Homo sapiens: one gene and its partners. The protein of the gene in region 1 purifies or fractionates together with the protein of each later gene. This does not show direct contact. Each region holds a gene or a part of one and is shown on either strand. Other genes may lie near its edges. The genes, in order: TAOK2, ARB2A and PIP4K2B.

Region 1 (2,663 bases):
AGTTCAACCGGCCAGCAGCTACCACCCTGACCAGATCCGCATTCCAGCCCGGCCCCTCACACACTCAGCTCCCACTCCAGGCCCACACTCAATCCTGCTGCCACAGCCTTCATACTCCGCCTGGTTGCCCCCAGCTCAGCACCCCCTACTGTGGAGGGTCTGCAGCCCCGTCCCCCAACCCACTAGGGTAATGCCTGATGCAGGAGAGCAATTTGGTCCCCTGCAGCCATGGTTGGGAGAAAAGGCAAGGGATGAGGAGACCAAGGGCCTGGAAACTAAGACCTCTGGAAGGAACCCGCAAACAGGCGCTCTGTGGGACCAAGAAGTTCGGTGAAGTTCTACAGGGGCCCAGACCCCAGAGCCGGTGGTGGTCATGGTGCAATGAAGCTATGAAGGCAGAGAGCATGAGGCTGGAGGAGTGAGGGGGCTGAGATAACGGAGATGGGGTGAAGAGGTCATGGAGCCGGGCCGAGGGTCAGCCTGGGGGCATACCGGGGAGGCTAGGCGGCAGGACAAAGCAGACAGAGGCAGCCTGGGCCAAAGGCACAGTTCCGCTCAGATATTTTATTTGTGTTTGTCTTTTTCTTTTTTTGGTGGGGGGAAGGGGACAGGTTGGAAGGGAGACAGAAAAACAAAATCAAAGAGGAGAAAAAAAACATGACTCTTCCCACCCTCCACCACCCCTGGCCCCAGGCCTGAGTCAATGAGGGTGAGGATGAGCACACACAGCGGGCGAACAGCAATAACTTAGGGGAGGAGCGCCAGGAGAACACAGAGTGACTGCTGGACTCCACAGCTGAGGAGGCTGCCTGTCTAGAGGTCCGAAGGGCTGGGCCTGGGGTAAGTGAGCAAACTGAGGAAGGTGGGTGAAAAGAGAGGACTAGGGACTGGAGAAACTTCACTGAGTCGTGGGAGATAAAGTGCTCAATGCTCTAGATTTGGGCTGGAAGGGCTGGAGTCAGCTACCTCCAGGGGGGCAGGGCCCGGGACTGGCGGGTGCGTGACCTCCGCCCGGCTAGAGTCCCTGGCAGTGGCTGGCGGGAGGCAGGGGGCCCTAGCTGGCGCTGGCTGCGTGGTAGTAGCCGGGGGATTCGGGTGGGCCGTTCACCCCGAAGCAGGCCCCAGCTGGCCAGTGTGTGGATGGCCCACGGGGGCAAGTGGGATGCTAAACCCTGGCTGGCCCGTGCCAGACGCCAGTTCCAGCCCTTGCACAGGACCCAGACCCTTGCCAACAGAGCTAATGGGTGTTGGGTGGTGCGGGGATTACGCCGCCGGGGCCCAGGGACGGGCAGGCGGCTGCGGAAGCCATCCTTGTTGGTTTTGGGGTACAGTGCAAACAGACCCCGGTCCCCCACAGCCCCACAGCCCTGCAGGGCCCGGAAGGCCATGGGTGACAGGCGCAGCAGAACCCGCAACCAGAGTCGAGATATGCCCCGGCGCACCCGGGGGCCCTGCTGCCGCACCCATCTGCCCCCCGCTGCCATAGCCACCAGAGGTAGAGCTAGGCCTGGCCAAGCTAAGAGCCAGGCAGCTCCAAGGCCCAGGGGAACACCCATGAGGCCTCGGCGCCAGCTCAGGCCCAGGACGGCCCCCAGTGCGGTACCCTGGGCCAGGAGTAGGAAAAGACTGGAGGGCAGGTGCAGGGCTGTACAAAGGAGCAGGTAGGAGGCCCCCAGACCCACCAGCCCCACCTCAAGGGCCAGCAGCGCTGCCTGCAGGCCACCCCCACCCTGGGCTGCCAGCAATGGAAGCAGCAGCAGCAGCAGGAGGGGCAGGAGGCCAGAGGAGGACCCCACTGCAAAGGAGAGGCCGGCCAGGAGGCCATGGGACAGGAGTCCAGGGAGCTGGCTGGCAGGGCAGGGCCTCAGGTGTGTTGGAGGGGGTTCAGGAGGGATGTCGGGGGAAGGACAACCATCTCCAGGATCCCTAGGGGTCCCAATCGGAGCCCCCTCTTCCTCTTCTTCCTCCTCCTCAGGGACGGGAGTCAGTGCTGGGCCCTGGACCCAGCCAAGCTCAAACTCCTCATCCAGAAGACTCTCATCCTCCTTCCCCCACAAGCTCCATGTCCCAGCCTCCTCCTGGCCAACAATGCTCCTCTCCTGGGGTACAAGGGAGGGCACCCTAAGCTCCTCTATCTCCTCAGGCAGACCCCAAACTTCCTCATCAACCAGGCTCCCATGTTTTTGTGGACTGGGACTAGGGGCTCCTGATTCTTCCCCCAGAATCCTCTGCTGCTTGGGCTCCAAAGTGGCCCCTTCCTTTCCCAGAATCCTTCTCTCTCCAACTGCTTCCTCCTCCTCGCCAAGCATTCTTTGGTCCAGGACTGCCTCCTGGCCAGGTGAGCAGGGCTGCTGTTCTATAGGGGTGCCTGTGTTGGGTGGGCCCAGAGCCCCAGGAATGGGGAGTGGAAGGCCCGGGGGGCGCTGGCCTGCACGTACTTTGAGGCTCTTGGGCTGCTGGCGAACCTGGGCCGCATGCTTCTGCCGCAACTCTTGCTCACGCCGCTTGTTGTACTCCAGCTGGTTGCCCAGCTCCGTCTGGTGCTGCAGGCGGGTGAGCTCAGCCCGCGTGCGCTGCACGGCCTGGAGCTGCCGCAGCTCCAGCTCCCGCGTGGCCTCGTGCTGCCGAAGCAGCAGTGCACACTCCAAGTCCTTCTGGGTCTG
Region 2 (4,264 bases), on another chromosome or scaffold:
TGGCTGCTGTGGAAAAGAGTGTGTCAATTCCTCGAAAAAAAGTATACATATAGATATATATACATATAAAATTTCCATGTGATCTAGCAATTTCCCTTCTGGAGAGATATCGAAAAGAAATGAAAGCAGAGAGTTGAACAGATATTTGCACTCTCATGTTCATAGCAGCATTATTCACAATAACCAAAGGATGGAAACAACCCAAGCATCCATGGATGAATGAATGGATAAACAAAATGTATTAACAGCATATGCACACAATGGATAATTGTATTTCACCTTAAAAAGAACATTCTGACACACGCTACAACATGGACGAACGTTGGAGACATTATACTAAGTGAAATAAGCCAGTCACAAAAGGTCAAATAGTGCATGATTCCACTTATATGAGGTACCTAGAGTAGTCAAATTCATAGAGGCAGAAAGTAAATTGGCAGTTGTCAGGGGCTGAAGGTAACAGAAAACGAGGTGTGAGTGTTTAATAGGTATGAAGTTTCAGTTGGGGATGATGAAAAACTTCTGAGTGAAAAATAAAGTTGGCATAGTACAGGGACATACTCCATACTTAGTTACCAATGACTACTGTGCAAACCCAATCTGACTCTAAAAACAGAGACAGTACAAGTTGTATACAACTGAGTAAATAGTGCTTACTTTTGTTAGAGCTCAATGAAGAGCACAGAAACATCTCTACATATCTACAGACACCAGATTCTCCTCAGAGGTTTGTCTGGGAAAGCTGAAAAAAATAAACTGTAAATAAATAAAATCCCTCATGCCACCAAATCAAGGAATAAATATTCATTCTTGAGATTGTTAAGTACTGCTACCTCCATGCCTACATCCTTGCTATTCCAAATATATCAAACACGCTCCTGTCTCAGTGCCTTTGTACTAGGCCAACTCATTCCTCCATACTTGCGGAGCTCACTCCCTCATTTCATTCAGATCTCCACTCAAGTGTTCCCTTATCAGAGAGGGTGAGCTTACCACCCTATCTAAAATAGCATCCTCTATCATTCTCTCTCCCCTTAATTTATTTTTCTCTATACCTCTTTTTTTTTTTTTTTTTTTTTCTGGAGACGGAGTCTCGATCTGTCACCCAGGCTGGAGTGCAGTGGCATGATGTCGGCTCACTGCAACCTCCGCCTTCCCGGTTCAAGCAATTCTCCTGCCTCAGCCTCCAGAGTAGCTGGGAATACAGGCGCACGCCACCACACCCAGCTAATTTTTTTGTATTTTAGTAGAGACGGGGTTCACCGTGTTGCCCAGGCTGGTCTCAAACTCCAGGGATCAGGCAATCCGTCCGCCTCGGCCTCCCAAAATGCTAGGATTACAGGCGTGAGCCACCGCGCCCTGCCTTTCTCTATACCTCTTAATCACTACTTGTTATATATTTACTTGTTAATTATACGTCTCCATCCACTAGAATGTAAGTTCCAGGAGCAAAAGGACTTTCTATTTTGTTTACTGCTGTCTTCCCATCACCTGAACACTATCCGGCACACTGAAGGTTGCCAGTAAATACTTGCTAAATGGATAAACAAGTGGATGCTCATGGTTTCATAGATAATATTTCCCTCTTGGCCTTGGTACTATTTATTCTACCATATGGAGCAGCCATAGCCTGAAAGCATCCAGAGCATCCTTAACTTTTCAGCGTAGGATTCACTGGTTAAGTGGAAGTAAGGCCTAGTTGAAAATTCTGAAAGAAGCCTGGTACCAGCACTGTCACTGAGGCCTTAACGAAGCAGATCCAAAAATACTCTCTTACTCAGTTTCTACATTCGCTAAATGTATACAGTGTAACCGTCCCTCGCATTGTAGGATAAAGAATACACCTTATCAATGAGATATTTGTTATGCAGTATATGGCATGCGTTAATGCAAACGATGTCATGTACTACATTAAAAAATCGCACTGATATTTTGATAAATATACAATGCACTTGTAGATAAAAACCAGAGAATTTTTCCCTCTACAGCTTTTTTGAGGATTTGGGAGAAATGGACAAATGCAACAACATTGCATGTCATTAAATACAGTATATCCAAACACAACGAGTTTCTTGGCCCAACAGATATAGACCCTGGAGCACTATAAGAATATGTTAAACACCTGGATGAGGGAAAGAGAAGACTGCTTCCAAAACATACTTACTTTATTTCAAAGTCAAAAGTATTCAACACTTAATTCATACTGCATCCCAGAGAAACGTCCCACCCGCGCCCATGCATGTTACAAGTTTTGAGAGCATTTTATAACTGCACTTTAATCCCTCTGCAGTGAATGACTTCTGGTAAAGCGCTGGCAGTTAATAATACTTTTTGTAGAAAAAAAAATTAATACAACAACCACAATACCTCCACTCGCAAGAAAGCGGAGGAGGGCCCATTACTCTGTCTCCAGGGACTCCCAGAATCCCGTACGCCCCGACATAAGGAAAGTCATCCAGGGAACACACACGTCGCTCCCGCCTAGAGAGTGGAAATGGAACATGGGACCTGCCCATCAGCGGAGGCCCAGACACAAGTCAGAGGTGTCCGCAGGGAATGCAGCGTGGTTCCAGACAGCCTCGGTCCCCAGGGCCAGCGACCACCGCCTGAGACCGACCCAGGCCAGCCCCCTCCTGATTTCGACCCGGGCCTGCCCCCGGAGCTCACATCCCCGCAAACGGCAGTCCTACCTGAGCTCTGCCCCCAGCCACAGGGCTGAGGGGGCAGGCGGGAGGAGGCGTGGCCTTCCAGTTCGCCAGTCGAACTCCCTCGTGCGGTTGTTATGACTTTCCCTCTCGGGATCCGCGCCCCGACCAAGTTCGAGTTGCACTTCCGGGGTCTTCAGGAGATTGATACGTCATTACGCACTTGACGGCAGCGGCGGCGACAACCCGGAAACGGGCGGGGCGCGGGCCCTGGGTAGGTTCCTGTGGTATTAGGTGGACTGGAGAAAGAGGCCCGCGTGAATTAAGTGTAGTTCTCTTATGCACTGGCGGACTCTGGTCGCCCTTCCTTGTGAAGGCTGCCTGGGTAGCCGTAGAGGACGAGGCCACTCTAAAGCCTCGTTTTCCCAGCGGAATTTTAACTATTCTAAGGATGTCCTTACAGCCAGTTCCCCACTCCGCTACTCAGAGTGTGTCAGACTTTACCCTGTCCATTCAACTCCAGAAAAACCGGGAGGTCTAGATTCGGAAGATTAAATTTACCTTTGAATTAGGACATGTAAAATAGGAAGTTAATATTAGCATCCTAATGACAAAAGTTTTCTCGTTATCATACTTGACTCAAATGGGAATCTTACGGATATTAATGTTTTTTCCAGAAACAGGTTTGAAAGGTATTTCAAGGATAAATCTGGGGAAAGGGATGGAAGCAACTGATTTTTAATTTTTAGATAGTACTCTCAGAGCATTTATTTAGTCCAAAACTGTTAATTTAATGAATTAGGCTAAACTAGACGCTGGGGTAACAAAGCTGAGTTAGATACCCTCTCCTCTGAGGCAGCTAAAGAGAAGGAAAGTCTGGTGGCTGACAAGTAAACCAACAGTTATGTTCTTCAGAGAGGAGATCTCAGACTCTCTAAGGTATACTTCACTTCCACACTGTTTGTACTTTGCAAATGTACCCTGCCCCCTAAAATGTAAACTCACTGATGGTAGTGACATAATCTTGTCTTTTTAATGTATCCTCAACCATACAACAGTGCCTGTCCACAAAGTAGACAATAAATACTTATTGAATGACTGAATGATCACAGTGGTAAATAATAGATTGGGGAAATCTAGAAAAGTGTATAGGACAAGAAGAAAGTGGTGTAAGTAAGTGGCGGGAGATAAGGAGCAGTAAAAGGTGAGAGAATCCACTGGAGTTAGCCAGAACTGAGTACCTGAATGAATCTCGGGCATTGCAAGACTGTTAGGGCTTCATTTCCGGAAAGAACTCAAATGGTTTGTAGAGTGACACTTTATACTGAAGAGGAAGGCAACAGCCAGATTCTGAAAAGCTTTCTATGTCATGCTGAGTAATTTGATTTTCTGCTGCAGACAATTGGGGAAGCTGAAGGATTGTTGAACAGAGGAGGGAAACATTTTTATTTTGGTGGACTTTTGCAACAGTGACAGATTATATTAAAAAGATAAGGCTCCCAAAAATGTATAATCCCAGTTTAACCATGAGAAAAACATCAGACAAAATACCTGACCAGTACTACTCCAAACAGTTAAAGTCATGAAAAACAAGGAAAGTCTGAGAAACTGTCTGAGCC
Region 3 (3,516 bases), on another chromosome or scaffold:
AACAGGCAGATTGGCTCTGGTGCTGTGGTGTTTTGTTTGTTTTTTCCTTAAGAGTCTCATTGTTGCTAGGGCTGGAGTGCTGTGGTGCAATCATGGCTAACTGCAGCCTCAACCTCCCAAGCTCAAGTGATCCTCCTGCCTCAGCCTCCTGAGTAGCTGGGACTACAGACATGTGCCATCACATCCAGCTAATTCTTGTTTTGTAGAGACGGGGTCTCACTATGTTACCCAGACCGGTACTGAACTTCTGGGCTCAAGTGATCCTCCTGCCTTGGCCTCCCCAAGTACTGGGCGTGAGCCACCAAACCCAGCCAGTGGTGCTGTGCTTTTAACCACTGTTTATTAATTGCATCTGAAAGCGGGATGTCATTGACCATATTCTTTCTCCAAACTCAAGCCATACATTGATTTAGCCGAAGCTGCCTCTAAAGCTAGGACCAAAACTTTTTAATTCTGGGAAGAAAAAAAAAAGGTTCATTTCCCAAGGACTCACACATAACAGATGTACACAAAGCTTTTTGAGTTTTATTTTTTTCCTCAGGTTGGAGATTCATCGTAACATGCATGCATTTTCAAACAGTAACAGGGTCTCAAACTTTTTAAAGCAGACGTTAGACAAGCACAGGGGATTGAAAATTCCCATTTAAAAAATGGAAACTGCAGTGGGATATGGAGAAGTCACACACTTGGTGGGGTGGTGGTTTGTCCTGCTTCCCCAAAAGGTGGATATGAACTTAATTCACATTTTTTAATTTCAATGATCTGACCTGATGCTGGGATGTGCCGAGCAGTACTGCCCCCTCCCCCAAGGGTGTTGGCTCCCACCGCCTCTCACAGTGGCTCTGCGCAAGGGCAAGAGGCTCCTGTGGAAACTTCTGCCCTGGGATACTGGCACAAGCTGCCAAGGGACAGCTGAGTCTCCTTTTCCCCATGGGGCACTCTTCATAAGTGGCACATTCTAGAGGAGGGAGAGGGCCACGGTCACTGACCCCTGCAGATGGCTGGTAGATTGGGGAACAGTTGTCTGAATGGGTTTTCCCTTTCAGGACCTCCTGCCCGCATGACTGCCAGGAAGAGATGAGGCTCCTAGACTTGGGGGGCCACAGGTTTAAGGCCAGAGCTCTGAGTGTTGTTTAAACGCACTGTCCCTTCTAGCCCCCAACACCTGAGTAACTCACATGCTGGGGTGCTGCAGTTTTCTCTCCCACCCTGAATTGGTAAAAAGACAACTGGGGGGTAGGACTGGCTACTGCAAAAAGTCCTGGGTCTTTGGTCCACCTCCCCAAGGTATGCCCTGGCAGACCATGAAGACAGGAAAGGCAGGGCAGGAGTGTAGCCTCACGCCCTGAGCGCTACCAGCAGGCCTGTTTGAGGCCAAAAGCACAGGCAAGAGAAAGAGTCAAGTAGGGAGAGGGGATAAAGAGCTGCCTGTGGTGGGAACTTAAGAGACTGCCACTGAGAACAGCCACAGGGGCCACTCGTGGCGCCTGCCACAGACCAGCAACCCCTGAGCTAAAGAAGGAGAGGTGGAGCACTGCTTCAGTCTGCGCCCCTCAGCTGTGGCTTCCCGGCATGCCCTGTGACCCCAAGCCGCAGGGTACAGGAAAGAAGTTTGTGCTGGGGGACTCAAAGACCCAGAGGTTAATTAACAGGAACCAGGGCCAGGGGCCTTCATCTAGAGGTCAGTGGAGTCTCCAGGGCACTCATCACTGTGGCTGGGAGACTACAGTGTCTCGGCTGCGGACTTGTGGAAGAAGAGGGGGAAGGATGGGAGAAGGGGTGACTGGATGCCAGCCAGGAATCCTGGCCTTAGCCCTATCCTGGCCTCGCCTAATCAGCCATGTCGTTATTCTTACACCTTTCTTCTTGGGAGACCCAACATTATTCTGAGATGCCATGAGACTGTTTAGCTTTTCTTCATGGCCCCAGGGAGTGAGGCTGAGGGCAGTCACTTCCCCTCCAATGCCCTCGACTGCCCAGTAAAAGAATGGCGGGACCCAAGGAGGAAAGAGTGGGGGCAGACAACGCTTGGGGGATCAGTCCACTTTCTCTACATTCAAACTGCAGACCAAATAGAATACCATGACAAAAAGAAGAGAAAGGAAACTTGTATAAACCAAGATAAATAGCTTTTAAACATTTGAATGCCAAAAATTGGGGGCCAAACTCAAGGTTTTGAAGATAGCACAGCGAATGACCTTTAAAAAAAAAAATTGAAAATCCACCAAACCACAGCTCAAAATGTTATGACCCAGTCAACAATACTGTCAGAAAAACAAAAAGCATTTGAAACAGAATGCTACCTCTCAAAATGTAAACAATATACAAAACACACAAACATACACACACACACACAAACTCAATGTTAAACAAGTTAGATACCTGGTAGTCGTCTTTAACCAGTAAGAATGTGTTACACTTTCCATACACATTATGGCAACATGATCAGCAGACCAAATGCAGAGAAGCCGGTAGGAACCCGAGGCCACGGAGGCTGCTGGAAGACAGCTTTCCAAGCTTCAGAGATGCTGCGCCTGACGAGGAGCAGATCCAAACTTCCATTCTTCATTATGACGTGGGGAAATCAAGTCCAAACATTATTCCTACATAATCCCTTTCCCAAGTCAAATTTGTTTTCTCCATGAGCCAGTTGGTTTCAAGTTCCCTAAGTCATGTAGTGGTCTTGCGGCAGTTGTTCAGACCTACCTATGGCCCCTTCCTGGGGCCAAGGCAGTGGTTTGACCCCCATCTGCCTCTTCCAGAAGGTTTCCCATCCAATCCAGCAGCCCCAGTGAAGTCCAAGAATGCCGTCTCCATTCTTTCCTGACCTATATGCTGTGAGTCAGGCACAGAGACAGTGCTGGTTCCTGCTTCGGAAGCTGGGCTTGGCCAGGTTTGGAGGGAGCCACAGGAAACCAATCTATTCATTCAAAATGGTTTCACAAGCGATCTTCACATCTTTGGGGTTATCTACAAGTCTGACCATATCTCATCCCAAATCCCCAGTTCCTGGTTGAGGGGGTGAGAAGATGCAGGAATGTACCTCCCCCAATGCAGAACAACAGAGCTGTTTCTCTCCTGGCCAGAGCAGCCTGTGGCTCAGTTCTGAGGGCCTGGGTGGCAGGCTCCGAAGGCAGGTGGAACACCTGCAGGAAGCCACTCCTTCCAAAAAAGCCTGTGGGCTGCAGATCTGCTAAAAGTCTAGAGCGGGGCAACAAGGAAAAACAGCCCCAAGGCTGAGGCCAGGTCAAAACCCACATCAAGCCTCCAAACTGGATTTCCTGGATCACATCCTCATGTAACTAGGAAGCCACCTCACGTTTGGACACCACACTCTAAGATGGGGGCACCTTGCTGGCTGTAACTCTCCAGGCACAGGGAGACAGATCTCCTACAAGGTCATCCCGGAGCTTAACGAGGTGTCTCTGCTAAAAAGCACTCCAGGCGCTTGGAGATCTGCCCAGAGCTAAGAGTTCGGCTAGAAGTAAGAGTGCCTGGGAGGAGGTCAGAAGGAAG

The links.
Region 2: the proteins of TAOK2 (region 1) and ARB2A purify together in Homo sapiens (affinity purification with mass spectrometry; one large-scale study listed by BioGRID and IntAct). This does not show direct contact.
Region 3: the proteins of TAOK2 (region 1) and PIP4K2B purify together in Homo sapiens (affinity purification with mass spectrometry; one large-scale study listed by BioGRID and IntAct). This does not show direct contact.

What each region holds. Positions count from the first base shown.
Region 1 is NC_000016.10:29,986,280-29,988,942, reverse strand, and holds the end of TAOK2 (serine/threonine-protein kinase TAO2), read right to left. Parts: coding exon 963-2,663; 3' UTR 585-962; downstream 1-584. UniProt on the Homo sapiens protein: Serine/threonine-protein kinase involved in different processes such as membrane blebbing and apoptotic bodies formation DNA damage response and MAPK14/p38 MAPK stress-activated MAPK cascade.
Region 2 is NC_000005.10:94,108,821-94,113,084, forward strand, and holds the start of ARB2A (cotranscriptional regulator ARB2A isoform 1 precursor), read right to left. Parts: upstream 2,844-4,264; 5' UTR 2,691-2,843; exon of another isoform or gene 2,368-2,690; intron 1-2,367. UniProt on the Homo sapiens protein: Plays a role in the regulation of alternative splicing, by interacting with AGO2 and CHD7. Seems to be required for stabilizing protein-protein interactions at the chromatin-spliceosome interface. May have hydrolase activity.
Region 3 is NC_000017.11:38,765,186-38,768,701, forward strand, and holds the end of PIP4K2B (phosphatidylinositol 5-phosphate 4-kinase type-2 beta), read right to left. Parts: 3' UTR 506-3,516; downstream 1-505. UniProt on the Homo sapiens protein: Participates in the biosynthesis of phosphatidylinositol 4,5-bisphosphate. Preferentially utilizes GTP, rather than ATP, for PI(5)P phosphorylation and its activity reflects changes in direct proportion to the physiological GTP concentration.